Homo sapiens: one gene and its partner. The protein of the gene in region 1 interacts with the protein of each later gene in a biochemical or structural test. Each region holds a gene or a part of one and is shown in the gene's direction. Other genes may lie near its edges. The genes, in order: GLE1 and NUP155.

The links.
Region 2: the proteins of GLE1 (region 1) and NUP155 form a complex in vitro, tested with the Homo sapiens proteins (2 studies listed by BioGRID).

The regions. Positions count from the first base shown.
Region 1 is NC_000009.12:128,507,642-128,521,414, forward strand, and holds part of GLE1 (mRNA export factor GLE1), read left to right. Parts: intron 1-1,234; coding exon 1,235-1,456; intron 1,457-7,887; coding exon 7,888-7,998; intron 7,999-13,773. UniProt on the Homo sapiens protein: Required for the export of mRNAs containing poly(A) tails from the nucleus into the cytoplasm. May be involved in the terminal step of the mRNA transport through the nuclear pore complex (NPC).
Region 2 is NC_000005.10:37,359,631-37,376,962, reverse strand, and holds the start of NUP155 (nuclear pore complex protein Nup155), read left to right. Parts: upstream 1-5,856; 5' UTR 5,857-5,985; coding exon 5,986-6,142; exon of another isoform or gene 6,143-6,297; intron 6,298-12,578; coding exon 12,579-12,716; intron 12,717-12,978; coding exon 12,979-13,075; intron 13,076-17,332.

The DNA.
Region 1 (13,773 bases):
CTTTGGGAGGCTGAGGTGGGTGGATCACCTGAGGTCAGGAGTTTGAGACCAGCCTGGCCAACATGGTGAAACCCTGTCTCTAGTAATAATACAAAAATTAGCCGGGTGTGGTGGTCGACACCTGTAATCCCAGCTGCTCGGGAGGCTGAAGCAGGAGAATTGCTTGAACCCGGGAGGTGGAGGTTGCAGTGAGCTGAGATCGTGCCACTGCACTCCAGCCTGGGTGACAGAGCAAGACTCCATCTCAAAAAAAAGGCTGGGCACACAGTGGCTCACGCCTGTAATCCCAGCACTTTGGGAGGCTGAGGCGGGTGGATCGCCTGAGGTCAGGAGTTCGAGACCAGCCTGACTAACATGGAGAAAACCCCGTATCTACTAAAAGTACAAAATTAGCCAGGCATGGTGGTGCATGCCTGTAATCCCAGCTACTCAGGAGGCTGAGGCAGGAGAATCACTTGAACCTGGGAGGTGGAGGTTGTGGTGAGCCAAGATCGTGCCATTGCACTCCAGCCTGGGCAACAAGAGCGAAACTCCATCTCAAAAAAAAAAAAAAAAAAGACCAGCCTGGGCAACATATCAAGACTCCATCTCTATAAAAAATGAAAAAATAATTAGCTGAATATAGTGGCGCATGCCTGTACTCCCAGCTGCTGGGGAGACTGGTTGAGGTGGGAGGATAGCTTGAGCCCAGGAGGTCAGGCTACAGTGAGCCATGATTAGGTCACTGCACTCCAGCCTGGGTAACAGAGTGAGACCCTGTCTCAAAAATAATTAATTTTAAAAATGAAAAAATATATACATCTAGGTTTGTGTAAGGATGCTTTACGATACTCGCACAATGACAAGATCACCTAACCCTGTGTTTCTCAGAACTTACCCCCATTGTTAAGTGACTGACATTCTACTGATTGTGTATACAGTAGCTTACTTCAGAATTCCTCGTGTTCTGTTCAGTGCTTTAGATTGCTTTCACATATGCTTTAGTGGGAATCTTTGTGCATTGTCCCTTTTTCTGTAGTTAGGGTTATTTAGTCTGATTTTCATTAGAAGGATAGTAGTCTAGGTCATTATCAAGAAACCACTGTACTTTGTTTTCATCTGATTGTTAATACATTACTTTGGGTCTTTGATGTTTATTTATTTAGGCCTTCTTAGATGTTCAGTAAGGCATGTAGTGGATTATACTGAGAACAGTTGACGTGTAAGTTGAGCTTAACCCTATTCTTTTCTCTAGGATGTTTTAGAAGAATGTATGTCTCTTCCCAAGCTATCTTCTTATTCTGGATGGGTGGTAGAGCACGTCCTACCCCATATGCAGGAGAACCAACCTCTGTCTGAGACTTCGCCATCCTCTACGTCAGCTTCAGCCCTAGATCAACCCTCATTTGTTCCCAAATCTCCTGACGCAAGCTCTGCCTTTTCCCCAGCCTCCCCTGCAACACCAAATGGAACCAAGGTAAGGTTGTGATCAGCTTAAGACAAAAGACATGGTGGCTGCAAAGTCAAAATGTTTAATATTGTCATATGACAGTGACCATACCCTAGGGGAAATAATGATTGCTCATTGTTGTAGCTGTTGTAGAGACAATGTTGACAGCACCATTCAGTGTTCTCTTTAGACAGATCCAGAGGGAGAAAAATCCCCTCTATTCTTAGTACCGAGAATAGTATAACTAATTTCATGAGCAATTGGATTTTTTTTTTTTTCTGATGAACGCTGCGTCTGTTTAACTGATATGGTCTCCCTTTTTGTGTTATCTGCTGGAAGAAGGCTTAGAGTGAAATGTATACCTTCTCTTTAAGTTTACATGCCTTCTCTCATTGGTTCTGTAGGAGATTTTACCCTATTCCTGGCTCTGTTTTGTCCCTGCCTCTGTTTTTTTGTTATTTCTCCCACTTAAAAATGCTAAACTGGGGCCATTTCCTCTCAGAAGACCCCTCTCTCTCACTAGAGAGAGAACTATTTTCCTTTCTCTTTCTCTTGCCTATTAAACCTCCACTCCTAAACGCAAAAAAAAAAAAAAAAGTTAAATTGGACCCAACACAGTGGCTCATGTCCATAATTCCAGTGCTTTGGAAGGCCAAGACAAGAGGATTGCTTGAGCCCAGGAGTTCAAGACCAGCCTGGGCAACATAGTGAGACCTTGTCTCTCCAAAATACTTAAAAATTGGCTAGGCATGGTGGCTCGAGCTTGTTGTCCTAGCTACTTGGGACATTGAGATGGGAGGATCACTTGAGCCCAGGAGTTTGAGACTACAGTGAGCTGTGATCAAGCCATTACATTCCAGCCTAGGCAACAGAGTGAGTCCCTATCTCAAAAAAAAGTTAAATTTTGGAAGTTTTTTAAAATTACTTTTTATATACTTCTAGAGGTAGTTTGTGTATATACAAATATACGTGAACATGTCTTCTTCTTCACCCTCCCTTTTTTTTGAGCTGAGGTCTGTCTCTGTCAACCAGGATGGAGTGCAGTGGCATGAACATGGCTCACTGCAGCCTCCACCTCCCAGGCTCAATCCACCCTCCTGTCTCAGCCTCCCGAATAGCTGGGACTGCGTGTGGACACCACCATACTTGGCTATTTTCTTTTTCTTTTTTTTTTTTGAGACGGAGTCTTGCTCTGTCCCCCAGGCTGGAGTGCAGTGACGCAATTTCAGCTCACTGCAACTTCCGCCTCCCGGCTTCAAGCGATTCTCCCACCTCAGCCTCCTGAGCGGCTGGGATTACAGGCACCCACTATCACGCCCGGCTTATGTTTGTATTTTTAGTGGAGATGGTGTTTCACCATATTGGCCTGGCTGTTCTCAAACTCCTGACCTTATGATCTGCCCACCTCGGCCTCCCAAAGTGCTGGGATTACAGGTGTGAACCACCACACCCAGGCTTTTTTTTTTTTTTTTTTTTAAGATGGAGTCTAGCTCTGTCACCCAGGCTGGAGTACAGTGGCATGGTCTCGGCTTACTGCAACCTTTGCCTCCTGGGTTCACGCGGTTCTTCTGCCTCAGCCTCCCAAGTAGCTGAGATTACAGGTGTGCGCCACCATGCCTGGCTAATTTTTGTATTCTTAGTAGAGACAGGATTTTGCCATGTTGTCCAGTCTGGTCTCAAACTACTGACCTCAGATGATCTACCCACCTCGGCCTCCCAAAGTGCTGGGATTATAGTCGTGAGCCACTGTGCCTGGCCAGTTTTTTTTTTTTTTTTCTTTTTTACATAGAAAGTATTTTTTTTCTATCTAGTAGTTCATCTTTTAAAATATTAGTCTTTAAAAAATATTCTTTGTGGCCACGTGTGGTGGCTCACACGTGTAATCCCAGCACTTTGGGAGGCTGAGGCAGGTGGATCACTTGAGATCAGTAGTTCGAGAGCAGCTTGACCACAGTGAAACCCTGTCTCTACTAAAAATACAAAATTAGCTGGGCGTCGTGGCGCACGCCTGTAATCCCATCTACTTGGGAGGCTGAGGCACTAGAATTGCTTGAACCCGGGAGACGGAGGTTGCAGTGAGCTGAGATCATGCCATTGTACTCTAGCCTGGGTAACGGAGCAAGACTCAGTCTCAAAATATATGTATATATAGAGACTGAGTAAATAATAACAACAAAATAAATAATATATATATTATAAATATACATAAATATATATATTTATGTTGATTTTGTTGTTGTTGTTGTTGCCAGAAAAGGTCTAGGTACTTTAAAATATATATTTTTAGCAACTGAACGTCTTAAGGAAAAAAAGGAACCTCCACCTAAATGTCATACCTTATATAAAAATTAACTTGGCCGGGTGCAGTGGCTCACGCCTGTAATCCCAGCACTTTGGGAGGCCAAGGCGGGTGGATCACTAGGTCAGGAGATCAAGACCATTCTGGCTAACACGGTCAAACCCCTTCTCTACTAAAAATAAAAAAAAAAATTAGGCGAGTTGGCGGGCACCTGTAGTCCCAGCTACTCAGGAGGCTGAGGCAGGAGAATGATGTGAACGCGGGAGGCAGAGCTTGCAGTGAGCTGAGATTGCGCCACTGCACACCAGCCTGGGCGACAGAGCAAGACTCCATCTCAAAAAAAAAAAAAAATTAACGTGATCATGGACTTAAACATAAAAAAAAAACTGTAAGCCTTTTAGAACTAAAACATAACCAGAATCTAGGGCTGGGTGAAGATTTATTTCTTTATTTATTTTTGAGACGAAGTCTCATTCTTGTCCCCCAGGCTGGAGTGCAATGGTGCAATCTCGGCTTAATGCAACCTCCGCCTCCCAGGTTCAAGTGATTCTCCTGCCTCAGCCTCCCGAGTAGCTGGGATTATAGGCGCCTGCCACCATGCCTGGCTAATTTTTGTACTTTTAGTAGACGGGGTTTCACCATGTTGGCCAGGCTGGTCTCGAACTCCTGTTCTCAGGTGATCTGCCCAACTTGGCCTCCCAAAGTTCTGGGATTACAGGCGTGAGCCACCAGGCCCGGCCTGGGTGAAGATTTATTTATTTAACATTCCTGAATTAGCAGAACTGTAGAGAAGGAGAATAGCTTAGAGATGAGGGATGGGGGAGGAAGTGGTGAGGCTATAAATATAGGTGTGACATGGGGTGGTTGGTGGTGATAGAACAGCTTTGTATCTTGAGTGTGGTGGTGTTTACATGAATCTACATGTGATAAAATTACATAGAACTATACATAAGCACAAATGAATGCCTTTAAAACTGGTGAAATCTGAATAAGCTCTGTGGATTGTACCAATATCAATTTACTGGTTTTGTTATTTTATTGTATTTATGAAAGACATTACTATTGGGGGAGACTGGGTGAAAAGTACATGCGACCTTCCTGTATGTATTTTTGCAACCTTCTGTGAACATTAATTATTTAAAAATTAAAATTTTTAAAAAGTATTTTTATGAGCAGCTTCTTGGCAACAGATTCTGATCTGATCCTGCCAATATTGTGGCGTGCCCTCAGGTGGGCCTCTTTTCCTCAGTGGACTTCAGTGTCTTTATCTGTAAATCTCATTCTGGACCAAATTGCTGAGGTCTTTTTTTTTTTTAATATGGAGTTTCGCTTTTGTCGCCCAGGCTGGAGTGCAATGGCGTGATCTCGACTCACTGCAACCCCAGGTTCAAGTGATTCTCCTGCCTCAGCCTCTTGAGTAGCTGGGATTACAGGCACGCGCCACCATGCCTGGCTAATTTTGTATTTTTCGTAGAGACGGGGTTTCACCATGTTGGTCAGGCTAGGTGACCTCAGGTGATCCACCCGCCTTGGCCTCCCAACATGCTGGGATTACAGGCATGAGCCACCGTGCCCAGCCCGAGGTTATTTTCACGTATAAAATTCCGTAATTTTTGGAGCCACTGCGCCTGGCCTAATAAATTATTAAATGGTTTTATGTAATGGATTGTCACATTATTTAGGAATTTTTGGTATTTACGTAAGAAAAACCCAGTTTGGCTTAAGGGACTGAGGGAAGTATTAATTAGTTCATGTAACTAGGAAGTCTAGGAGTGCATTTGGAATCACCTAGATCTAGGAACATCTACATTCTGCATCTTTCTGCTTGACATTATTTATTATTATTTTTCAAACATCTCCCCCACATAGGATTGATTATTTTTGACTCAATCTAGTGTCCCAAACATGGGGCTTTGCCTCTCCATTTCTCAGTTATTGGTTTCATTGTTGAGATAGATTAGGTGGCAAGATGGCTACTGGTAGCCCTGGACTCAGCATCTTCTTAGGTTAGCATTCCCAGATAGCTTCATCAGAAAAGTTCAAAGATATCCATGTCAGGTGTGTTAATGAAAATAAAAAAGCTGGGTGTGGAATCCCAGGACTTTGGGAGGCCAAGGCAGGTGGAACATTTGAGCTCAGGCATTCGAGACTAGCCTGCGCAACATGGGGAAACTCCATATTTACAAAAAAATTACCTGAACATGATGGCTCATGCCTACGGTCCCAGCTACTCAGAAGGCTGAGGTAGGAGGATCCTTGATCCTGGAAGGTCATGGCTGCAGTGAGCCTAGATAGCACGACTGTATGCCAGCACGGGTGATAGAGTAAGACCCTGTCTCAAAAAAAAAAAAAAGAAAAGAAAAAAGGCGGGGTGCGGTGGCTCACGCCTGTAATCCCAGCACTTTGGAAGGCCAAGGCGGGTGGATCACGAGGTCAAGAGATCAAGACCATCCTGGCTAACATGGTGAAACACCATCTCTACTAAAAATACAAAAAAAATTATCCTGGCGTGGTGGAGGGTTCCTGTAGTCCCAGCTACTTGGGAGGCTGAGGCAGGAGAATGGCATGAACCCGGGAGGCAGAGCTTGCAGTGAGCCGAGATTGCGCTACTGCACTCCAGCCTGGGCAACAGAGTGAGACTCCATCTCAAAAAAAAAAAAAAAGAAAAAGAAAAAGAAAAAAAATAGGCCAGGCATAGTGGCTCATGCCTGTAATTGTAGCACTTTGGGAGCCTGAGGTAGGAGGCTTGCCTGAGACTAGGAGTTTGGGACCAGCCTGGGCAACATGACAAAACCCTGTCTCTACAAAAAAATACAAAAATTAGCCAGGTGTGGTGGCGTGCGCCAGTGGTCCCAGCTACTTGTGAGACTGAGGCAGGAGGATCAATTGAAGCTGGAAGGTCCAGGCTGTAATGATCCGTGATCACGCCACTATACTCCAGCCTGGGAAACAGAGTGAGATCTTGTTTCAAAAAAAAAAAAAAAAAAAAACTTAGAAAAGTTCAAAGATGAACTCTGGCCTTCAGGTCATATTTTTCATTCCTCAAGTCCATACTGGGTGTAGGAGGATAGCAGACTTTTTTTTTTTTTTTTTTTGAGACGGAGTCTCTGTATCCCAGGCTAGAGTGCAGTCGTACGATCTCTGCGCACTGCAAGCTCCACCTCCCAGGTTCACGCCATTCTCCCGCCTCAGCCTCCCGAGTAGCTGGGACTACAGGCGCCCGCCACCATGCCTAGGCACGTGCCACCATGCCCGGCTAACTTGTGTATGTTTGGTAGAGACAGAGTATGTCTTGTGTATGTTTAGTAGAGACAGGGTTTAGTAGAGACAGGGTATGTCTTGTGTATGTTTAGTAGAGACAGGGTTTCACCATGTTGGTCAGGATAGTCTCAAACTCCTGACCTTGTAATCCGCCCACCACAGCCTCCCAAAGTGCTGGGGAAAAAGGTGCCTGGCCTTTTTTTTGAGATGGAGTCTTGCTCTGTCGCCCAGGCTGGAGTGCAGTGGCGCGATCTCAGCTCACTACAGCCTCCGCCTCCTGGGTTCAAGGGATTCTCCTGCCTTAGCCTGCCTCCTCAGTAGCTGGGATTATAGGTGCGTGCCACCACGCCTGGCTAATTTTTGTGTTTTTAGTAGGGACGGGGTTTCACCATGTTGGTCAGGATGGTCTCGAACTCCTGACTTTGTGATCCGCCCACCTCTGCCTCCCAAAGTACTGGGATTACAGGCGTGAGCCACCACACCCGGCCTGAGGATAGAGTACTTTGATAGCCAGCTTTCTCCTGAAGCCAGGAGGATGGAAGCTTAGGGATGTAGGTTGGGGATACTCCATCCAAAGCATCCCAGGATAAATGGACACTGATCTGAAGAAAGGGGAAACATTTTCTAGGCAGAGTAAAACAAACAAGTCAAAAAAAACATAGAAAAACCCAAAAAATCACCCAAAGTAACAAACATCAATTTATTAAAGAAAACAATTAGAACAAAGTCAATGTCATTCATGAAAAGCACACTAGTTCTGACCTAAATTTTTTTTTTGCTCTTGTTATTGGTGGTTGTTCATAAGTTGGGATGTGGTCTTTGTCTAGAAGAGATAACACCAACTTTACCATATTAAAAACTTATTTTTTAATTATTTTTCCATTTTCTGCTCATATAGGGCAAAGATGAGTCCCAGCACACAGAATCTATGGTACTTCAGTCCTCACGGGGGATCAAAGTGGAAGGCTGCGTCCGAATGTACGAACTGGTACACAGAATGAAAGGAACAGTAAGTGAACCCATGAAGGAAGGCAGCCTTGATCCTGCGAGCCACATTTAACTGCAGTTCCCCAGGGCGTAGGAATGGGCACTGTATGCTACTCATCCTTCCCACCTACTGTTTAGTTTTGGGGGTAGTGTAATAGAGGTCAGGAGTGAGTGCTCTGAAGTCAAGTCTGGTTTCAGATCCTGGCTGTTACATTTTACATGTGACTTTGGGAAAATTACTTAGCCTTTTCTGGCTTCCATTTACTTCTCCAAAATTTGGAAATGGTCTGGGATTGTTAGATAAGCTTATTCTGAGAAAATGGGACCTTAGCCTCTTTTTTTTTTTTTTTGAGGTGGAGTTTTTGCTCTTGTTGCCCAGGCTGGACTGGACTACAGTGGTGTAATCTTGGCTCACTGCAACCTCCACCTCCCAGGTTCAAGTGATTCTCCTGCCTCAGCCTCCCAAGTAACTAGGATTACAGGCTCGCGCCACCACACCCAGCTACTTTATTTTCTATTTACTAGAGACGGGGTTTCACTATGTTGGTCAGGCTGGTCTCGAACTCCTGACCTCAGGTGATTCACCTGCCTCAGCCTCCCAAGGTGCTGGGATTACAGGCATGAGCCACGATGCCCAGTCAGGACCTTAGCCTCTTGAAAAAATAGCAGCACTATTTTAATTAATTTATTTGATTGTATTTTGTTTTTGTTTTTGTTTTTGAGATGGAGTCTTGCTCTGTTGCCCAGGCTGTAGTACAGTGGCACCATCTCGGCTCACCGCAAGCTCCGCCTCCCAGGTTCATGCTATTCTCTTGCCTCAGCCTCCCAAGTAGCTGGGACTACAGGTGCCTGTCACCACGCCCAGCTAATTTTTTGTATTTTTAGTGGAGACAGGGTTTTGCCGTGTTAGCCAGGACGGTCTTGATCTTCTGACCTCGTGATCTGCCCGCCTCGGCCTCCCAGAGTGCTGGGATTACAGGCATGAGCCACCGTGCCCGGCCTGTTTTTTGTTTTTGTTTTTTTGAGACAGAGTCTTGCTGTTGTCAGCCCGGGCTGGAGTGCAGTGGTGCAATCTTGGCTCACTGCAACCTCCGCCTCCTGGGTTCCAGCAATTCTCCTGCCTGAGCCTCCCAAGTAGCTGAGATTACAGGCGCCTGCCACCACGCCTGGCTAATTTTTGTATTTTTTAGTAGAGACGGGGTTTCACCGTGTTGGCCAGGCTGGTCTCAAACTCCTGACCTCAGGTGATCCACCCACCTCAGCCTCCCAAAGTGCTGGGATTACAGGCATAAGCCACTGCGCCCAGCATGTATTTTTTTTTAATTAGGAAAGCAATGCATGATCTTGTAAAAATGTTTCAGAGTACAGGAATTTAGAAAATGAAAGTCTTGGCCAGGCACGGAGGCTCATGCCCGTAATCCCAGCACTTTGGGAGGGTGAGGCAGGTGGATCACCTGAGATAAGGAGTTCCAGACTGGCCTGGCCAACATGGCGAAACCCCATCTCTACTAAAAATACAAAAATTAGCCGGGCATGGTGGCACATGCCTATAATACTAGTTACTGGGGAGGCTGAGGCAGGAGAATCACTTGAACCCGGGAGGCAGAGGTGGCAGTGAGCCAAGATTGTGCCACTGCACTCTAGCCTGGGCAGCAGGGCAATACTTTATCTCAAAAAAAAAAAAGAAAAAGAAAATGAAAGTCTTCTAACATCTTGCCTCATTGGTCATTGAGTCAATAAATATTTGCTGAGCACCTATGTGCTAGATGCTGTTCCAGGTCTAGATAAAACAGTAAACATTATAGACATAGAGCTTATATTGTGGTGGGAAGAGACAGAAGTAAACAAGAGAAATAAGTAAAATATTTGGAACATTGTTGTAATCTGGGTGAAAGATGGTGGTTGCTTAGAGTAGGGTGGTAGCAATGGAGATGGTGAGAAACGACTAATTCTGCATATCAGAGTTGTTTTAATTCAAAGATTTATTTCCTGCATCTTTGGAAATTTTTCCCCTTGATTAGTTCACCTCTCCATTGCCTAAGTTAATCCTCTATATGTCCTATTCTTTCTTTCATTTTCCTTTTGTCTTATTGTTTTGTTTTCTAGAAGATTTCTATATTTTATTCTCCACCTGTTGATTGAAAAAATATATATGTATTTATTATGTCTAATTTTCATGAGTTTTTTTGTATTCTCCACTTCTTCCTTTTTCAGAGCATCTTATTCTCATTTCTTATCATATTCAGAGCTCTTTTTCAGATTCACTTGTGTTCCTTGATATACATGTCCTTCTGGATTCATTATTTTTTATTTGTTCATCTTGATCCCTTTTAGGATATAGAGATTCCTCAGTTATCTAAAGATCCTTATTGCTAGTAATCAGATCAGAGATTCAAGGGGAATAATCAGAAACAAGGTTATTAAGCTTTAGGACTTCCTAAGTGCCAGCATATTGTTTTGGAATACTAGTTCCCATACTGATTAGCTGTTTCTGGACAGTTTATTCATTTTCTTAAAAAAAACTCACGTGCCTGGCCTATTTTTTTTTTTTTCCGTATTCTGTTAGTCACGGTAGTCATAAAGTCCACTCAGGTTGAAGTAGAGGGTATGGAAGGATTGTCAGACAATTTGCAGATCTGTTTTAAAATCATTACAGCACAGGGCCGGGCCTGTTGGCTCACACCTGTAATCCCAGCACTTTCGGAGGCCGAGGCAGGCAGATCACTTGAGGTCAGGAGTTTGACACCAGCCTGGCCAACACAGTAAAACCCTGTCTCTACTAAAAATACAAAAATTAGGCAGGCATAGTGGTGCACGCCTGTAATCCCAGCTACTCAGGAGGCTGAGGCTGGACAATCACTCGAACCTGGGAGGTGGAGGTTGCAGTGAGCCAAAATCGCACCACTGTACTCCAGCCTGGGTGACAGAGTTGAGAATCCGTCTCTAAAAAATAAAAAATAAAAATAAAATAGCTGGACATGGTGGCTTGCACTGGTAATCCCAGCACTTTGGGAGGCCGTGGTGGATGGATCACGAGGTCGGGAGTTCGAGACCAGCCTGGCCAACATAGTGAAACCCCGTCTCTACTAAAAATACAAAAATTAGCCAGGCATGGTGGCAGGCACCTGTAGTCCCAGCTACTTGGGAGGCTGAGGGAGGAGAATCGCTTGAACCCAGGAGGCGGAGTTTGCAGTGAGCCAAGATTGCACCACTACACTCCAGCCTGGGCGACAGAGCGAGACTCCAAAAAAAAAAAAAAAAGCTGGGCACTGTTGCGGGAAGTCAGGGACCCCAAATGGAGGGACTGGCTGAAGCCATGGCAGAAGAACATGGATTGTGAAGATTTCATGGACATTTATTAGTTCCCCAAATTAATACTTTTATAATTTCTTATGCCTGTCTTTACTGCAATCTCTAAACATAAATTGTAAAGATTTCATGGACACTTATCACTTCCCTAATCAATACCCTTGTGATTTCCTATGCCTGTCTTTACTTTAATCTCTTAATCCTGTCAGCTGAAGAGGATGTATGTCGCCTCAGGACCCTGTGATAATTGCATTAACTGCACAAATTGTAGAGCATGTGTGTTTGAACAATATGAAATCTGGGCACCTTGAAAAAAGAACAGGATAACAGCAATGTTTAGGAAACAAGAGAGATAACCTTAAACTCTGACCGCCGGTGAGCTGGGCAGAACAAAGCCATATTTCTCTTCTTTCAAAAGCAAATGGGAGAAATATCGCTGAATTCTTTTTCTCAGCAAGGAACATCCCTGGGAAGGAGAATACGCGCCTGGGGGTAGGTCTATAGATGGCCCCCTGCATGTGGCCGTCTTTTATGGTCTGTAGACTGTAGGGGTGACATAGACCCCAGTCTCCCATAGCGCTCCCAGGCTTATTAGGAAGAAGAAATTCCTGCCTAATAAATTTTGGTCAGACCGGTTGCTCTCAAAACCCTGTCTCCTGATAAGATGTTATCAATGACAGTGGTGCCTGAAACTTCATTAGCAATTTTAATTTCACCCTGGTCCTGTGGTCCTGTGGTCCTGTGATCTCGCGATCTCGCCCTGCCTCCATTTGCCTTGTGATATTCTGTTACCTTGTGAAGTACTTGATGTGTGTGACTCACACCCTATTCGTATACTCCCTCCCCTTTTGAAACTCCCTAATAAAAACTTGCTGGTTTTACGGCTTGTGGGGCATCACAGAACCTACCGACATGTGATGTCTCCCCCGGATGCCCAGCTTTAAAATTTCTCTCTTTTGTACTCTGTCCCTTTATTTTTCAAGCTGGCCAATGCTTAGGGAAAATAGAAAAGAACCTACATGACTATTGGGGCAGGTTCCCCAATAGGGCACCCGTGGCTTACACCTGTAATCCCAGCACTTTGGGAGGCTGAGGCGGGAGGATCACAAGGTCAAGAGATCGAGACCATCCTGGCCAACACTGTGAAACCCCGTCTCTACTAAAAATACAAAAATTAGCTGGGCGTGGTGGCACATGCCTGTAAACCCAGCTACTTGGGAGGCTGAGGCAGGAGAATCGCTTGAACCTGGGAGGCGGAGGTTGCAGTGAGCCGAGATGGTGCCAGTGCACTCCAGCCTGGGTGACAGTGTGAGACTGTGTCTCCAAAAAATATATATATATATGTATATATGTGTGTATATATATGTGTATATATGTATATATGTGTATATATGTATATGTGTGTATATGTGTATATGTGTATATATGTATGTGTGTATATATGTATATATGTATATGTGTATATATGTATGTGTGTATATATGTATATATATGTATATATGTATATATATGTATATATATATAAAAAATACAATAAAATCATTATAGCACAAATGCTTGGCTCTTGGCTGTTTTGATCTAATGACTAGGGGAAGACAGCAAGAGTTGACTGTTTTGTCTACAAACATTTAGCCGGTAGCTCCGTTTTCAGCCTGATGAGGCCCACCTATATGAGTCGTGGCATTTCCCAGTCTTGAGACTCTGCAGTTCGGCTGGTAGATTGGCTTTCTGCTCCCGTGAGGCATCGTCTGCTTCTCACACACATCGTGTGTGTGTGTGTGTATCCTTGGGTTTTCTCAGCTCTGCTCTATCATTTATTGCTTCTCCACTATTTTTTTTTTTTTAAAGACAGGGTCTCGCTCCGTTGCTCAGGCTGGAATACAGTGGTGCAATCACCGCTCCTTGCAGCCTTGACCTCCTGGGTTCAGGCATTCCTCCTACCTCAGCTCTTTCTGCTTTCTAAATAACTGGGACTGCAGGTGTGCACCACCACAGCCAGATAATTTTTAAATTTTTGGTAGAGACGGGGGTCTCTCTGTTGCCCAGGCTGGTCTCGAACTCCTGGGCTCAAGTGATCCTCCCACTTTGGCCTCCTCAAGTGCTGGGATTACAGATCTCAGCCAGTGCACCTGGCTATTTCTCCACTGACTGTTTTCCAGAAGTATGTAGAAGATTTTTCCCTGCTGGTGACATCTCTCATGCTCTATGTGGTGTTATGTCTTTTTTTTCTTTCCAATTCTCACTTTAACAGAGTCCCAGAGGAGAGGACATATATGCTTGTTTAGTTTGCCTTCTTTCGCTGGAAGCTTTAAAATAAGTTTTAAGACTGGGTACAGTTGGCTTATGCCTATAATCCCAGCAGTTTGGGAGGCCAAAGTGGGAGGATAGCTTGAGATCGGGAGCTCTAGACCATCCTGGGCAATATAGTGAGACCCTGACTCTATAAAAAATTTAAAAATTAGCCCCGTGTGATAGTGGACACCTTTAG
Region 2 (17,332 bases), on another chromosome or scaffold:
CACTACTAAAAACAGAATGCTATAAATAGAATAATGTCTTTTGTTTCCAAAGTCAATATAATAGAGTGATGCAAAAATAATAAAATAGTAGACACAAACTTTGGGGGTTAAGTCGGGACTGTAATCTGTGAGTTATCTTGGGGTAAAGGCTGCAGCTGCAAGCACCATCAGAGAGTATTCTCAGGGAAAATGGGAAATGGGTTAACAGTGGGTAAATCTACGGTGCCTGTAGTGTATTCGTTTTTTTGTTTTTTTGGTTTTGATACAGAGTCTCGCTGTTGTTGCCCAGGCTGGATTGCAATGGCGCAATCTTGGCTCACTGCAACCTCTGCCTTCCAGGTTCAAGCGATTCTCCTGCCTCAGCCTCCTGAGTAGCTGGGATTACAGGCATGCGCAACCAGACCGGCCAATTTTTTTTGTATTTTTAGTAGAGATGGGGTTTCCCCATGTTGGTCAGGCTGGTGTCTAACTCCTGACCTCAGGCAATCTGCCGGCCTCGGCCTCCCAAAGTGCTGGGATTACAGGCGTGGCCCACCACGCCCGGCCAAATTCTTACAATTTTATGTTGTCTTAGCATTTATTTTGAATATAAGTTGGACTTTCTCATATCAGAAACAGGGTTCAGTCACCCTTGACACCGTTTCTAGTTCTACACCTCCTCCCAGTTCCTCAATGTGATCAATCCAGGTATCTATTGTGTAAAACTTCCTCCTGGTGCCCGCCTCCCCATAGGATAAATACATACAGCCTACTTCACCGGCCCTGCTGACACTGACGTCCTACATGGACTGTGCAGATATGCCACAGTGACTACCTCGGTCACAGCATGACTTCCAAGAACGGGGTGTCCAATCTTTTGGCTTCCCTAGGCCACAATGGAAGAAGAAGAATTGTCTTGGGCAACACATTAAATACACTAACAACAGCTGAGAACTTTAAAAAAATCACAAATCTCACAATGTTTTAAGAAAGTTAACGAATTTGTGTTGGGCCACATTCAAAGCCATTCTGGGCTGACAAGCTTGTCCTCAAATTTGTGCATGCTTGCTTTAAACCCACCAATTAAAGTGTGGGAATTCCTCTTGGGAAATCTATTTGGAAAACACCATGAACCCAATAAATGCATTGGCTCATGAGTCCCTCTTTGTCTTTCCCTGACTGCATTCCTTGACCTCCAGGTGCGCCAGATGCCCCGCCAGGCATGTAAGTAATAAAATCTTTGTTTATATCTGTGTTTCTACTAATCATTGAAGAAGCATGCTCTATCTTAAAATTCCTAAATTAAAACAGTCCCTTAAAATAAATCAAGGCAGTAGGATTCAAAATGTTGTAGTAGTCACTGTATTTTTCAGTTACATAGGCGTTGTAAGCAAAATCAGTTTCCCTTAGGAATATCCTTAATAAAGCCATAAACAGTATTCATTTCGTTAAACCCTGACCCTTAATTATACGTCTTTTTAACCTTCAGTATGACAAAATGAGAAGTAATCATAAAGTATGTTTTTAAAAAAATTTCTTACAGATGGGGTCTCACTGTGTTACCCAGACTGGAGTGCAGTGGCTATTTACAAGTTCAGTCATGAAGCACTTTAGCCTCAAACTCCTGGACTCAAGCGATCTTCCCCTGCCTCAGCTTCCTGAGTAGATGGGACCACAGGCATACGCCACCATGCCCAGCTAATGCATATCTAAGTAGAATGGTCATCGAAAAGAAAACCACTTGTAATTGAGTGGTTAGCTTTTTTCATGGAACATTATTTTTACCTGAAAGAATGACTCACAAAGTACAGTTGTTCATATTTAAGTATTTGGCAAACATTTTTTCAAAAATAAATGAAATGAGTTTATCACTTTAAGAAAAACAGGTCAGGCATGGTGGCTTACACGGGTAATCCCAGCACTTTGGAAGCCGAGGTGGGAGGATCACCCAAGGCCAGGAGTTCGAGACCAGCCTGGCCAACATGGTGAAACCCCGTCTCTACTAAAAATACAGAAAATTAGCCAGGCGTAGCTGGGTGCGGTGGCTCACGTCTGTAATCCCAGCGCTTTGGGAGGCCAAGGCGGGTGGATCACCTGAGGTCAGGAGTTCAAGACCAGCCTGACCAACATAGTAAAACCCCCGTCTCTACTAAAAATACAAAAAAATGAGCTGGGCATGGTGGTATGTGCCTGTAATCCCAGCTACTCGGAAGGCTGAGGCAGAATTGCTTGAACCTGAGAGGCAGAGGTTGCAGTGAACAGAGATCATGCCACTGCACTCCAACCTGGGCAACAAGAGCAAAACTCCATCTCAAAAAAAAAAAATAAAGAAAAGAAAATTAGCCTGTAATTCCAGCTACTCAGGAGGCTGAAGCAGGAGGATTGCTTGAACCTGGGAGGCAGAGGTTGCAATGAGCTGAGATCGCACCATTGCACCCCAGCCTAGGCGACAAGAGCAAAACTCTGTTTAAAAAAAAAAAAAAACTGACTGCACTTGTTGACAATTATTAAAATACTTCTTCTTTTTCTAAATATGTAACTGAGGCCAGTTTTTCCTTCTTTCTTTCTTTCTTTTTTTTTGAGACAGAGTTTCGCTCTTGTAGCCCAGGCTGGAGTGCAATGGCACGATCTCAGCTCACTGCAACCTCCGCCTCCCAGGTTCGGGCAATTCCCCTGGCTTAGCCTCCCAAGTAGCCGGGATTACAGGCTTGCGCCACCATGCCCCACTGATTTTTGTATTTTTAGTAGAAACGGGGTTTCACCATGTTGGCCAGGCTAGTCTCGAACCTCTGACCTCAGGCAATCCACCCGCCTCGGCCTCCCAAAGTGCTGGGATTACAGGTGTGAGCCAGCGCGCCTGGTGAGGCCAGCTTTTCTTAATATTAATATATTATACTTCAACTAAATAAGTCACAAAATGTTGACATGTTAGACAAAGTAGCAAACATAAAAAACCAAGTTTGCTCATTCTGCTTGCCAGCAGAATTTCACAAAGCCCAACTCAGTGACTAAGTATAGACTTCTAGAAGAATGCCCTGGAAACAATAAGCAGGTTAGAGCACAGGTTCCCACGTCTCTTGCTTCAATCAATGCATTTTTTAAAAAAAGGTAAGTTCAGTGTTCCTACCCCTTGCCTCTTCCAGTACATAAGATAGTGTCCCATAGGATTCATGATTATGCCTCTGTAATCTATAACCAGATGTACTCTTACACCCAAACTTTGATGAGATTTTGCTCTAATGTAATTTATGAGCTTTTTTTTTTTTTTTTTTTTTTTTTTTTAGAGACAGAGTCTCCCTTTATCAACCAGACTAGAATGCAGTGGCATGGTCATGGCTCACTGCAACCTGGAACTCCTGGGCTAAAGTGATGCTCCTGCCTCAGCCCACCAAGTAGCTGGGACTACAGGTCCACACCTGGCTGCCCAGGTTGGTTTTGAATGCCTGGCCTCAAGAGACCCTCATGCATAGGCCTCTCAAAGTGCTAGAATTACAGGTGTGAGTCACTATACCCAGTTTATGAGCATGTTTAATGTAATTTCTGAGCACATGCAGAGCTTCCAACCCCTGACATGTAAGCTGTGGGCTAAAAGCTACTTTGGAGCAGTCTTAACAGAAACTCTCTGAAAGGTTGCAATCCTGAGTCTGAATCAAACTGACTTTAATTCTTTAAAAGAGGGTTATTTTTCTTCAATTGACAGCAGATACAGATATGAGAATCCAGCCATCCGTTACTGAGCCAGACACTAAAGAGATTTGCAAAAATATGAAATAATCGCATTCTTCTCCCTGTTTTAGAAACTATAGTGATTTCTCATTTTAAAAAAGTGTTATATTAACATGGATTAAGCTTGGTATGCTTTTTTTTTTTTTTTTTGAAACGGAGTCTTACTCTGTTGCCCAGGGTGGAGTGCAGTGGCACGATCTCGACTCACTGCAACCTCTGCCTCCTAGGTTCAAGTGATTCTCCTGGCTCAGCCTCCTGAACAGTTGAGACTACAGGCGCACGCCACCACGCCCAGCTAATTTTTGTATTTTAGTATAGACGGGGTTTCACCATATTGGCCAGGCTGGTCTCCAACTCCTGAACTTGTGATCCACCTGCCTTGGCCTCCCAAAGTGCTGGGTGCTGGGATTACAGGTGTGAGCCACTGTGCTCGGCCTTGTTACTCTTTTAAATACAATGTTAAACATTTTAATTTTCAGTTTGAGTTATTCACAAATATTAATAGATGTAACCAACATGAAACAAAAACTCTCTGGAATCCTGAATAATTTTTAAGGGTATCAAGGGGGTCCTAAGACCAAAAAAATTCATAATTATCTGTTCTAGGGAAGAGGTCAGCAAACTTTTCCTGTAAAGTGCCAGAGTCCGTATTTAAGGCTTTGCAGTCTTTTGTAGAAATTACTCGGTTTAGCAGTTGTAGTGGGAAAGCATAGGCAATATGCCAATGAATTAAGTTAGTTAGATTACACTTTGGGGAGCTTTACTTCTATGCAGGAATATCACAGCAACGTTGTTGAATCTTCCAATTTATGGAGTTGAAAACTTTGTGTATTTTGTCTCAAATTAAAAACAAACTCGGTGCCAGACCACCACTTTTCAATCTATGGTCTACCAAATAAAGTAAACTCACAGCTAGAGACCCAACTGCCTATCTATATACCAATGATAAAAAATCCAGTTTTTCTTGGTATATTGGCTATGTCAAATTTTAAGTGTAGATTGGTAACATCAAAGAACTTTCAATTTTCAGAAATGTAGTCAAGTCTTTGAGGGAGTAAAAATGTAATTCAAATAGCAAAAGACCAATTTAGAGTAATTCAGTTATTGATTTGTGAAATTCTGAAGAACATAACTGGAAGCTTTCTTAGGTGAGATTCTAAATAAGAGCAGCTTTCTAAAAAGTGCTTTGATTTACCCACTCAGGTTGCCTTCTGTAGTAAATGAAGCCTCTTTTACCTCTCTGCTTTCTCCTATCCTGCTATAGTTTATACCTATCCAAATAGAAAAATTATAATGAAGCCCTTTGTCTCTGCTTGAAGCACCTTAAGGACAGGAAACACTGTGTTAGTTTGATAGTCCCAGCACCAGGCACAAGGCAAGTATTCAGTTTCTTAGGATTGTATGAACTCTTGGGTTCCTATCTCATACGAGTTCCTATACTAGCGCTGGGAATGGAAAGATGAATTAGAACTGTCTGCTATCTCTGCCACGATAAAAAGCACGGCAGCGGTCCACCTGCACTCAGCTTCTTCTTAAACACGTATTTTATACTAAGGGGCAACAAAGTCAAAAGACAGCGACACGCAAATGGAAAAGCCTGATGAATTCTAATTTACACTGAAGCCCGCGAAGAATATAGTGAGATACTGGTTTATATCCCTCTCTGTGACAGCGACCTACCAATTCTTAACTACTCTCACAAAAGCAGTTACTTGGAGAACCAAACTGCGCGCTCATGCGCGAACTCATATAGCTGCAGTTAGCGGATACCGACGCGGGAAGTTCCAAGACTCAGGTCGAGCACGCGCTTAAACCAACGGAACCTGACCAACCTCCTAGGCCAGACACACGACCTAGCTCCCACCTACCGTATCCCTCCTCCCTCCTTCCTCCTCACCCTATCCAACCCCATCCCGCCCCTCTCCTTCCCTGTTCCCTCCCCTTTATCCTTCCCTTCCTTTCCCTCCCTCCCTTCCCTAAATAACCTACCCTAATTTTACCCTGCCACACCCCAAAACCCTCAACCCCCTCGAAAGCATCAGCAGCCTCCTAGCTCCACCCACAACCTCTAGCCCCCTCCCAACAGCTTCCTCTTCCCAGGCCAGAACGGCGTCTTCCAGTTCCCCACCGGATGAAGCGGAAGTGCGTCATGTCGAGGCGCCAAGGCGCTCGTTTGGCGCGCGCGCCCTAGGCGGCGGATCTAAGCTAACTTCTTGGATCTTTTCTTGTTTCTCCTTGGTTTTTGACTTTTTCTGGACCCTGGTGTCTACGATTTCCGAGATGCCGTCTTCTTTGTTGGGCGCGGCGATGCCGGCCTCTACATCTGCCGCAGCCCTGCAGGAAGCTCTGGAAAATGCTGGACGGCTCATCGACCGTCAGTTGCAAGAGGACCGCATGTACCCGGACCTTTCCGAGCTGCTTATGGTGTCTGCCCCAAGTGAGTGATAGTGACCCTGCTTTCTCAACCTAAAGGACTCTCGCCTGACTTCCTAATTTGCTACTTATCCCCAGCGTTGGTCCCGGCGAGGATATGCTGAGATTTATGGCACTGTTGGCTGCATTTTTGGAGAACAGCAAGCAGCTTCTTTTCAGGTTTTTTCCTTTCCTCACTTTCTTCATTGTAGATACTTGAGAGGGCAAGAGTGAAGAGCAAGCTCCCAGTTGAAGCAGAAAGAGGCAAAGACCTCAACCTTAATGAGCTTCTCGCCGCTCTCAAGTGCTTATGGCTAAGGCCATATGAGAAGCATCTCCAGATCCAAGTCCCAAATTTGTTCATTTCTCCTGTTAGTGTTTGAGTAGATCGTAAGAGCAAACGAAGTTAATTTGGAAATTTAGCATGTTATCTTAAAGATACGCTTTGCTTTATATTTATTTGTTTATTTATTGAGACGGAGCGGTTCCCTCTTCGCCCAGGCTGAAGTGCAATGGCGCGATCTCGGCTCATTGCAACCTCCGCCTCCTGGGTTCAAGCGATTCTTCTGCCTCAGACTCCCAAGTAGCTGAGATTACAGGCGCCTGCCACCAAGCCCGGCTAATTTTTGTGTTTTTTAAGTAGAGACGGGGTTTCACCATATTGGCCTGGCTGGTCACGAACTCTGACCTCAAGTGATCCGCCCGCCTCGGCCTCCCAAAGTGCTGGGATTACAGGCGCAAGCCACTGCACCCGGCCAAGAAACGCTTTATTATGTGTAGAGATGTGTGTTATGAAATGCTGGAGGATCTTAAAAGAACTACCAGTGGAATAAAGAAAGAGAACAGGGAAATCACAGTGCTTATGTACAGGGAGAGTAAGGCAGAATATGTGTTGACAATATAGGTGACTGGAAAGTAATTTGTTTAACAGTTTTAAGTTATAACCAGCTCCCCACGGCTTATGGAATTACATCAGTTGCTAGAAAAAGTGACCCCTTTGTGAGATGGAATTTGGAGAAAACCAGCGAAGTGTAAGAAAGAAAAGATTGTTGGTGAGCAAGAACCAAAGTAATCTAAATAGGATAATTTGTGCAGTGTAAACCGAGAACACTTCTGATTATTTATAAAAATCATTGATAGCTTTGTAATCAAAGAAATGATAGAAACAAAGATAGTATTTGCTCCCTACAGCTACTTACCAATGAGCGTGTCTTATAATACCTGATTGGCCTATTAGCAATTATCATCTTGAACAACATTACTCATTTTGGCCTCCTTAGGTGTGAAAACAAGATATAAAAACAGTGCATGCATTCTGGTCCTTCTCTTACATATCTCATGCCTTTACACACACCTTCCTCTTTCACCCAGTCTCTTCCCCTTCTTTTCCATCCAATTTTTCATCCGTTGCTCTGATTACAGAGAATTTAGCATATTTTCCGTAAGAAGCCCCATCTTCAGGATTTCCTCAGGATTTTATCTTACTTTTATTGTTTCTGCAATGTTCTTTTTTTGCCTGACAAACTTTTTCCAGACTCCCTGTGAAAGTCCTTAGTTTCTCTTTGTTGTCTTTCTTTTTCTTGTTCTTTTTTTTTGAGTCAAGGTCTAGTTCTGTTACCAGGCTGGAGTGCAGTGGCATGATCACAGCTCATTGCAGCCTCTAACTCATGAGCTCAAGTGGTCCTCCCGCCTTGCCCTCCCCAGTAGCTGGGACTACAGGCGCCTGCCACCACACCCAGCTAATTTTTAATTTTTATGTAGAGACGTAGTCTCACTCTGTTACAAGGCTGGTCTCAAATTCCTGGCATCAAGCAGTCCTCCTACCTCAGCCTTCCAAAGTGCTGAGATTACAGATGTAAGTCACACTCCTGGCCTGAAGTCTTTCGTAGCATTCCCATCCTCACTAAAGTTATCGATTCCTCCCTCTGTGTTCCCACTGCCATTTAACATGGTGATCTGCCACCTTCGGCCTATTAAAGTTATGTTTTAGGATTAAATGGGATGTCTGGATTTGCTTTATTTATTTATTTTTTGAGACAGAGTCTTACTGTCACCCAGCCTGGAGTGCAGTTGGCATAATCTTGGCTCACTACGGCCTCCACCTCCCAGGTTCAAGCGATGCTCCTGCCTCAGCCTCCTGAGTAGCTGGGATCATAGGTGTTCGCCACTGGCTCATTTTTCTATTTTTAGTAGAGACAGGGTTTCACCGTGTTGGCCAGGTTGGTCTTGATCTCCTGACCTCATGTGATCCGCCCGCCTCGGCCTCCCAAAGTGTTGGGATTACAGGTGTCACCCACTGTGCCCAGCCTGGATTTGCTTTAATATGAATTCAGCCCAATAGTCTCAGCACTTTGGGAGGCCAAAGTGGGCAGATTACTTGAGCCCAGAAGTTTGAGACCAGTCTTGGCAATATGGCAAAACCCAGCCTCTTAAAGAAAAGAAATACAATAATACAAAAATTAGCTTGGCATGGTGACACACACTTGGACCCCCAGCTACTTGGGAGGCTGAGGTGGGAGGATAACTTGAGACGGGGAGGTTGAGACTGCAGGGAGCTGTGATTGCGCCGCTGCACTCCAGCCTGGGCAACAGAGTGAGACCCTGTCTCAAAAAAAAAAAAAAAAAAAAAAAAAAAAGGCCTGGCGCTGTGCCTCATGCCTGTAATCCTAGCAATTTGGGACCTGGAAGTGGGGTGGATCACTTGAGCTTGAGTTTGAGACCAGCCTGAGTGAGCAACATGGCAAAACCCTGTCTCTACAAAAAGTGGCTGGGTGCGGTGGCTCACGCCCATAATCCCAGCACTTTGGGAGGCTGAGGTGGCAGATCACGAGGTTAGGAGTTCAAGACCAGCCTGACCAACGTGGTAAAACCCCGTCTCTACTAAAAATACAAAAATTAGCTGGGTGTGGTGGCTCATGGCTGTAATCCCAGTTATTCAGGAGGCTGAGGCAGGACAATCGCTTGAACCAGGGAGGCGGAAGTTGCAGTGAGCCGAGATCGCGCCACTGTACTCCAGCCAGGGCAATAGAGGGAGACTCTTTCTCAAAAGAAATGGGAGGCCCAGGTGGGCGGATCACGAGGTCAGGAGATGAGACCATCCTGGCTAACATGGTGAAACCCCCATCTCTACTAAAAATACAAAATAATTAGCCGGGCGTGGTGGCGGGCGCCTATAGTCCCAGCTACTCCGGAGGCTGAGACAGGAGAATGGTGTGAACCCGGGAGGCGGAGCTTGCAGTGAGCCGAGATCGCGCCACTGCATTCCAGCCTGGGCGACAGAGTGAGACTCCGTCTCAAAAAAAAAAAAAAAGGAAAAAGAAAAATGCTGTTTGGCTGGGCTCGGTGGTTTACTCCTGTAATCTCAGCAATTTGGGAGGCAAAGGTGAGTGGATCACTTGAGGTCAGGAGTTTGAGACTAGCCTGGCCATCATGGCGAAATCCTGTCTCTACTAAAAATACAAAAATTAGCCGGGTGTGGTGGCACACTCCTGTAGTCCTGGCATCTCGGGAGGCTGAGGCAGGAGAATCTCTTGAACCTGGGAGGCAGAGGTTGCAGTGAGCCGCCATTGCACTACAGCCTGGGCGACAGAGCGAGAGCCCATCCCAAAAAAAAACCCCAAAAACAAAAAAAAAATTAGCTAGGCATGGTGTCATGACACTGTAGTCCTAGCTACTCACGAGGCTGTGGTGGAAGATTGCTTGAGCCCAAGAGGCTGAGGTTGCCCTGAGCTGTGATTGCACCACTGCATTCCAGCCAAGGCGACAGAGTGAAACCCCGTCTCAGGAAAAAAAAAAAAAGAGAAAAAGAGTTCGGCCGGGTGCAGTGGCTCACATCTGTAATCCCAGCACTTTGGGAGGCCAAGGCAGGCGGATTACGAGGTCAAGAGATTGAGACCGGCCGGGCACGGTGGCTCACGCCTGTAATCCCAGCACTTTGGGAGGCCGAAGCGGGCAGATCACGAGGTCGGGAGATCGAGACCATCCTGGCTAACACGGTGACACCCCGTCTCTACTAAAAATAAAAAAATTAGCCTGGCGTGGCAACAGGCGCCTGTAGTCCCAGCTACTTGGGAGGCTGAGACAGAAGAATGGCCTGAACCCAGGTGGTGGAGCTTGCAGTGAGCTGAGATCAGGCCACTGCACTCCAGCCTGTGAGACTCCGTCTCAAAAAAAAAAAAAAAAAGATTGAGACTATCCTGGCCAACATGGTGAAACCTTGTCTCTATTAAAACTACAAAAATTAGCTGGGCGTGGTGGCTCATGCCTGTAATCCCAGCTACCCGGGAGTCTGAGGCAGGAGAATCCCTTGAACCAGGGAATTGGAGGTTGCAGTGAGCTGAGATCGCGCCAATGCACTCTAGCTTGGCGTCAGAGCGAGACTCCGTCTCAAAAAATAAAAATAAAAAGATAATTGGGGAAGGAGTGAACAATGATAAAAATGAAACATGATTGGGGATATTACTGGTTATTAAGTTGGATAATCAGTACATGGGTATTTATTGTATTTTTCTTATATATATTTTAAAAATTTCCATAATACACTTCAAGATTGTTTTATATGTCAGTTTTCCTTAACATCTTTGTACTCTATAGAACCTGAGAAAGTGCCTGAGATAAGTAGGTCATCAGTCAGGTCTAAATAACGCCTTGTCCGGGAGCAAGGGTAGGCTGAGTAGACCAGCCCACTCCTGTCCTTAGTGATGGAGTCTTAGAGCAAGAGAAAGGTTGCCCATGAGAACACTTTATAGAGCAGTCTTTGTTTTTATCCCCCCAATAAGATACTGCTTGTGGGGTATTATTTGTATTTGTCTTAGTGGTCTTGGGGATAAATCTAAAGGGAAAAGTCATGGGTTGTTTTAATCTATAAATGTTTAGCTGGTAAAGGCAGTATTTTCCCCCAGTCATTATTTTGTTTGCTTATAGTCATTTTACCTTTGAGCCCCAAAGCAGTTTTATATTTTCCCATTTCAGATTAGCAAAATGATAGAAAAACACTAAATTATTATTTTTAAATTTTTTTATTTTTAATTTTGTGTGTACATAGTAGGCGTCTGTGTGTGTGTGTGTGTGTGTGTGTGTGTGTGTGTGTGTGTATATATATATATATTTTTTTTTTTTTTTTTTTTTTTTTTCTCCCCGAGACAGAGTCTTGCTCTGTCACCCTGGCTGGAGTGCAGTGGCACGATCTTGGCTCACTGCTGCCTCCGCCTCCCAGGTTCAAGCAGTTCTCCTGCCTCAGCCTCCCAAGTAGCTGGGATTATAGGTGCTTGCTACTGTGCCTGGCTAATTTTTTTGTATTTTTAGTGGAGACAGGGTTTCACCATTTTGGCCAGGCTGGTCTTGAACTCCTGACCTTGTGATCGGCTTGCCTCTGCCTCCCAAAGTGCTGGGATTACAGGCGTGAGCTACCGCGCCCAACGGTGTATATATTTATGTGGTGCATGAGATGTTTTGATACAGGCATGCAATGTGAAATGATCACATCAGGGAAAATGGGGTATCTATCCTCTCAAGCATTTATCCTTTGTGTTACAAACAATACAATTACATGCTTTCATTTTGTTTATTTATTTATTTATTTATTTTTGAGACAGAGTCTTGCCCTGTCGCTCAGGCTGGAATGCAATGACACAATCTCAGCTCACTGCAACTTCCGCCTCCCGGGTTCAAGCAGTTCTGCCTCAGCCTCCGCAGTAGCTGGGATTATAGGCGCACGCCACCAGGCAGGCTAATTTTTTGTGTCTTTAGTAGAGATGGAGTTTCACCATGTTGGCCAGGCTAGTCTCAAACTCCTGACCTCATGATCCTCCTACCTCGGCCTCCCAAAGTGCTAGGATTACAGGCTTGAGCCACTGCGCCCAGCCACTTTTATTTTAAAATAACACTAAATTATCAAATTTAAACATTTCCAGCTGGGCACGGTGGCTCACACCTGTAATCCTAGCCTTTTGGGAGGCCGAGGCGGGCGGATCATGAGGTCAGGAGATCAAGACCAGCCTGGCTAACACGGTGAAACCCCGTTTCTACTAAAAATACAAAAAATTAGCCGGGTGTGGTGGCGGACGCCTGTAGTCTCAGCTACTTGGGAGACTGAGGCAGGAGAATGGCGTGAACCCGGGAGGTGGAGCTTGCAGTGAGCCGAGATTGTGCCACTGCACTCCAGCCTGGGCGACAGTGCGAGACTCTATCTCAAAAAAAAAAAAAATAAAATAAAATAAACATTTCCTTTGTTACAGAGCAAGTTTTTTGAGATATGACTTTCCCTTTAGGCCTGAAACCAGTAACTGTTCCTACCTTCACAAGGGAATATTTCAGGACTACTTTGTGTTGGGTCAAAACTAGAATATTCTCTCTGTACCTTTGGAACCAACACACAACAATTTTTTTGTGGCACTCAATCCTTTTGTTTGCCCGGTTGATGAGCAGTACATTATTATAAATACTTCATTTTCTTTTTGTAGATAATCCCACCGTTTCTGGCATGTCAGATATGGATTATCCTTTGCAAGGACCTGGTTTGCTGTCCGTACCCAACCTTCCAGAGATCAGTTCCATCCGAAGAGTTCCTCTCCCACCTGAACTTGTTGAGCAGTTTGGACGTATCCTATTACTTTGTATTTATTTTAAAAATGTTAAAATTGGTATTTTTCATTCTTATAATTCTTGTTCTATGTTTAATTAATGTGTTATATATTCATTTAAGGGTTTTATTTAAAATTCGTTTAAGTATATGGGTTCCATGTTGTATTAAAGAGTGGACACATTGTGATTTTTTACGTAAATATTAAGTCAAAAGCTATTGAAACAAGTTAAAGAAGAATAAGATTCACCTCTGTCTGCCTTACATCCACACTACCTCAGATATGCAGTGTAATTGCATGATGGGTGTGTTCCCTCCTATCAGCAGAGCTTGGCTCACAATTGACAGTGATATATTCATGTGGAACTATGAGGATGGGTATGTATTTAAGGCTGGTTTGCTTTAAGGGTGATTGGAATTTATATAAACTTTACTGTAGCTAGTGTTCTCATTAGAAGCTGCTTGGTTTATCTTTCATTCATCTAGCCTTTGGGTCAGTGCTTCTCAGTATCAGTCATCTGGAGATGTTCAAATGTGCATTCTGTCTTAGTAGTCCTGAGTGAGGCTCAAGAGTCTGCATTTCTAACAAGCTGCCAACTGCTGCTGCTGGTTTAGGTGCCATTCTTGAGTGGCAGGAGCCCGGGTCCCAAGCTGTTAGCCCGTAGTAAAAATAGATGTTGGCAATTCATTGAGAGATGATTGGACATTTTTAAAGACTTCTGTTTTCCTTGCATTTCTATGGAGTAGGCATGTGATATTTATTTATTTTGTTGTCATTTTGTGAATTTGACCCGTGTGTAAATTATATGTATAGAAATGATTCTGAGTGAAAGCCTAAGGTACTTTTGCTTAAATACAGCATGTTGGTCTGGTGATCTCCCTGTTGACTTTTTAGAGATAGATTTTGTTTTACTTCCAGTTGTCCATTACATTATCCTTAGATGAGGTGTGGGATAAACATAGGAAAGCCCATATAATTAAGATGTTACTCTTGTTCCTGAGTAATTAATGATCTTTTTAGGAACACACGTGCATTAAAAAGACACTGTATCGGCCGAGCACGCTGACTCAAACGCCTATAATCCCAGCACTTTGGGAGGCTGAGGTGGGTGGATCACCTGAGGTCAGGAGTCCGAGACCAGCCTGGCCAACATGGAGAAACCCTGTCTCTACTAAAAATACAAAAATTAGCCAAGTGTGGTGGCACATGCCTGTAGTCCCAGCCACTCGGGAGCTGAGGCAGGAGAATTGCTTGAACCTGGGAGATGGAGGTTGCAGTGAGCTGAGATAGTGCCACTGCACTCCAGCCTGAGTGACAGAGCGAGACTCCATCTCAGAAACAACAACAACAAAACACTGTATTATTGAAACAAAATTGAAACTAAATGACAGCTTAACACCTATAGCTTAAACGAAACCATTTTTTTCTACTAGAAGTTTCGTAGCAATTTTTCATGTTGAAATGTAATAGTTGTAATAGCAGTGATGTATGATTGTGATTATTTTTCATGTACCCTGAATGTTCCCCACTTTGTTATGTTACCATAACATATTCATTTTTATACTAAATAATGAAACCTTTTTTGTTTAGGTATGTATCTTTTCAAGAGAAGTCATTGCAAAAATATTACAGAACAGATAAATGTGAGAATAATTGTTTTCTTTAAAATATGTTTTCGGCTGGGCATGGTGGCTCATGCCTGTAATCCCAGCACTTTAGGAGGCCAAGGCAGGCAGATCACCTGCAGTCGGGAGTTCGAGACCAGCCTGACCAACATGGAGAAAGCCCATCTCTACTAAAAATACAAAATTAGCCTGGCATGGTGGCACATGCCTGTAATCGCAGCTACTCGGGAGGCTGAGGCAGGAGAATCACTTGAACCTGGGAGGCGGAGGTTGTGGTGAGCCGAGATCGCGCCATTGCACTCCAGCCTGGGCAACAAGAGGGAAAACTCCATCTCAAAAAAAAAAAAACACTAATGAAATTTTTTACATTTCCATTAACATCCAACATATTTATTTAACACATACATATTGATCTTATGTATCTGACACTGTTGTTGTGGTAGGAACAGTACTGAATGAGATGAATGTAGTTCTGCCCTCATGGAACAAACAGTCCTACCTTACTGTGTGTCTTAGTCCGAGCTGCTAAAACAGAATACCATAGCCTGTGATCAACATGAATTTCTTTCTCATGGTTCTGGAAGCTGGAAGTCCAAGATCAAGGTCTGGTGAAAGCCCACTTCAATGTTCATAGATGGCTATCTTTTCACTCTGTCCTCACATGGCAGAGGGGTAGGGGAGTTCTTTGGGTCCTCTTTTATAAGGGCACTAATCCCATTCATGAGATATACCCTCATGACCTAATAACCTTTCAAAGACCCCACCTACAAATACTATCACATTAAGAGTTAGGATTTAATATGAATTTTAGGAGGACACAGATATTTGATCCATAGCAGTGTGTGTTCATTTAAAGAAAAATTATTTGAAGAATGTACTTATTTTAAAAAATCAAGGCACAAGGTCCACAAATTCAATTTTGTAAAATTTATACTTAGTTTAAATATTCAATTGGCTTTCTATTATAAATCCTAATTCCACCTGGATGATAAAAATGTAATCTTGGTCATTTCATTGTTCTCTAACCCCCAAATATCTCAGCATTGGATCGTAGTTCCAAGAGGCTGTGCCAGTTATCAAAGGGCCCTGTGGAATGGCATGATGTAAGAGGATGGGGAATCCTAGTCCGCATAAGTTGCCATTTAGCTATTTTGTTCCTGTGTGGATGGCCTTTTCAGGATGACTGGAAGCTTTCTTGAAAGTCTAGATCATATTTTTTCGTGGTATTTTTTCTGCTTCTTGTTCTCTGAGCTTCTTAGATCTTTAGTTTGATGTCTTCTATTATTTTTAGAATTTTTTTCAGCTGTTATCTTTATTTCTCTCTCTCTCTCTCCTTTTCTGTTCAGCCATTGTCTTTTTTTTTTTTTTTTTTTTGAGACAGAGTCTCGCTCTGTCGCCCAGGCTGGAGTGCAGTGGACTATCTTGGTTCACTGCAACCTCCACCTCCTGGGTTCAAGCACTTCTTGCCTCAGCCTCTGGAGTAGCTGGGACTACAGGTATGGGCCACCACACCTGGCTAATTTTTGTATTGTTATTAGAGATGGGGTTTCACTATATTGACTAGGCTGGTCTTGAACTCCTGGCCTCCAGTGATTTGCCCTCCTGGGCCTCCCAAAGTGCTGGGATTACAAGCATGAGCCACCGCACCCAGCCCAGCCATTATCTTGAAATATTCTGATACATTCTCTTTCTTCAGAAATTTCAGCTATACTTTTGTTATATACCTCATTTTGGATGCTCCATTCTGTTTTTTGTTTTTCCACTTTCTGTCTCTATCTCCCTGTTTTTTGGGAGACGGAGTCTCAAAGTGCTGGGATTACAGGTGTAAGCCACTGCGCCTGGACCCCCCCCCCTTTTTTTTTATCTCATTCCGTTGCTGAGGCTGGAGTGCAGTGGCATGATCTCGGCTCACTGCAGCCTCAACCTCCTGGGTTCAAGTGATTCTCCTGCCTCAGCCTCCCGAGTAACTGGGATTATAGGCATGCACCACCACACCCGGCTAATTTTTGTATTTTTAGTGGAGACGGAGTTTCACCGGGTTGGGCAAGCTGGTCTCGAATTCCTGACCTCAGGTGACCTGCCCACCTCAGCCTCCCAAAGTGCTGGGATTACAAGCGTAAGCCACCGCACTTGGCCTTCATTGGCTTTTTTTTTTGAGACTGAGTCTCATTCTGTTGCCCAGGCTGGAGTGCAGTGGCAAGATCTTGGCTGACTGCAACCTTCTCCTCCCTGGTTCAAGTAATTCCCCTGCCTCAGCCTCCTGAGTAGCTGGGAATACAAGCGTGTGCCACCATGGCCAGCTAATTTTTTTTTGTATTTTAGTAGAGACGGGGTTTCACCATGTTGGCCAGGACGGTCTCGATCTCCTGACCTCGTGATCCACCCGCCTCAGCCTCCCAAAATGCTGGGGATTACAGGCGTGAGCCACCACACCCAGCCTCGCTGACTTCTTATAATTTTTATCTTTTTGTCGAAATTCTTTACCTATTTTTTTTTGTCTGTTTTATTTCTCCCTTTTTTTTGAGACAGAGTCTCGCTCTGTTGCCCAGGCTTGAGTGCAGTGGTATCATCTTGCCTCACTGCAACCTCCACCTCCCAGGTTCAAGTGATTTTCATGCCTCAGCCTCCGGAGTAGCTGGGATTACAGGCCTGGGACACCATGCCTGGCTAATTTTTTCTATTTTTAGTAGAAACAGGTATCATTGTGTTGGCCAGGCTGGTCTTGAACTCATGGCCTCAAGTGATCCACACGTCTCAACCTCCCAACTTTACCTATTTGTACATATAGTCAATTAGGTAATTTTTCCTATATAAAGCCTATATGTATAGTTCATAGTTACTTTACATTTCTTGTCTGATAGTTTGGATTCATAGCTGAGTCTGGTTCTATTGATTACTTTGTTTCTTGACACTGGGGTTTTTTTTCTTGTTATTTTGTGTCTCATGATTTCTTATTGAAAGCCAGAAATCATGTTAAGACAGTAGATACTGTAAGTAAGTAGCAAGTGG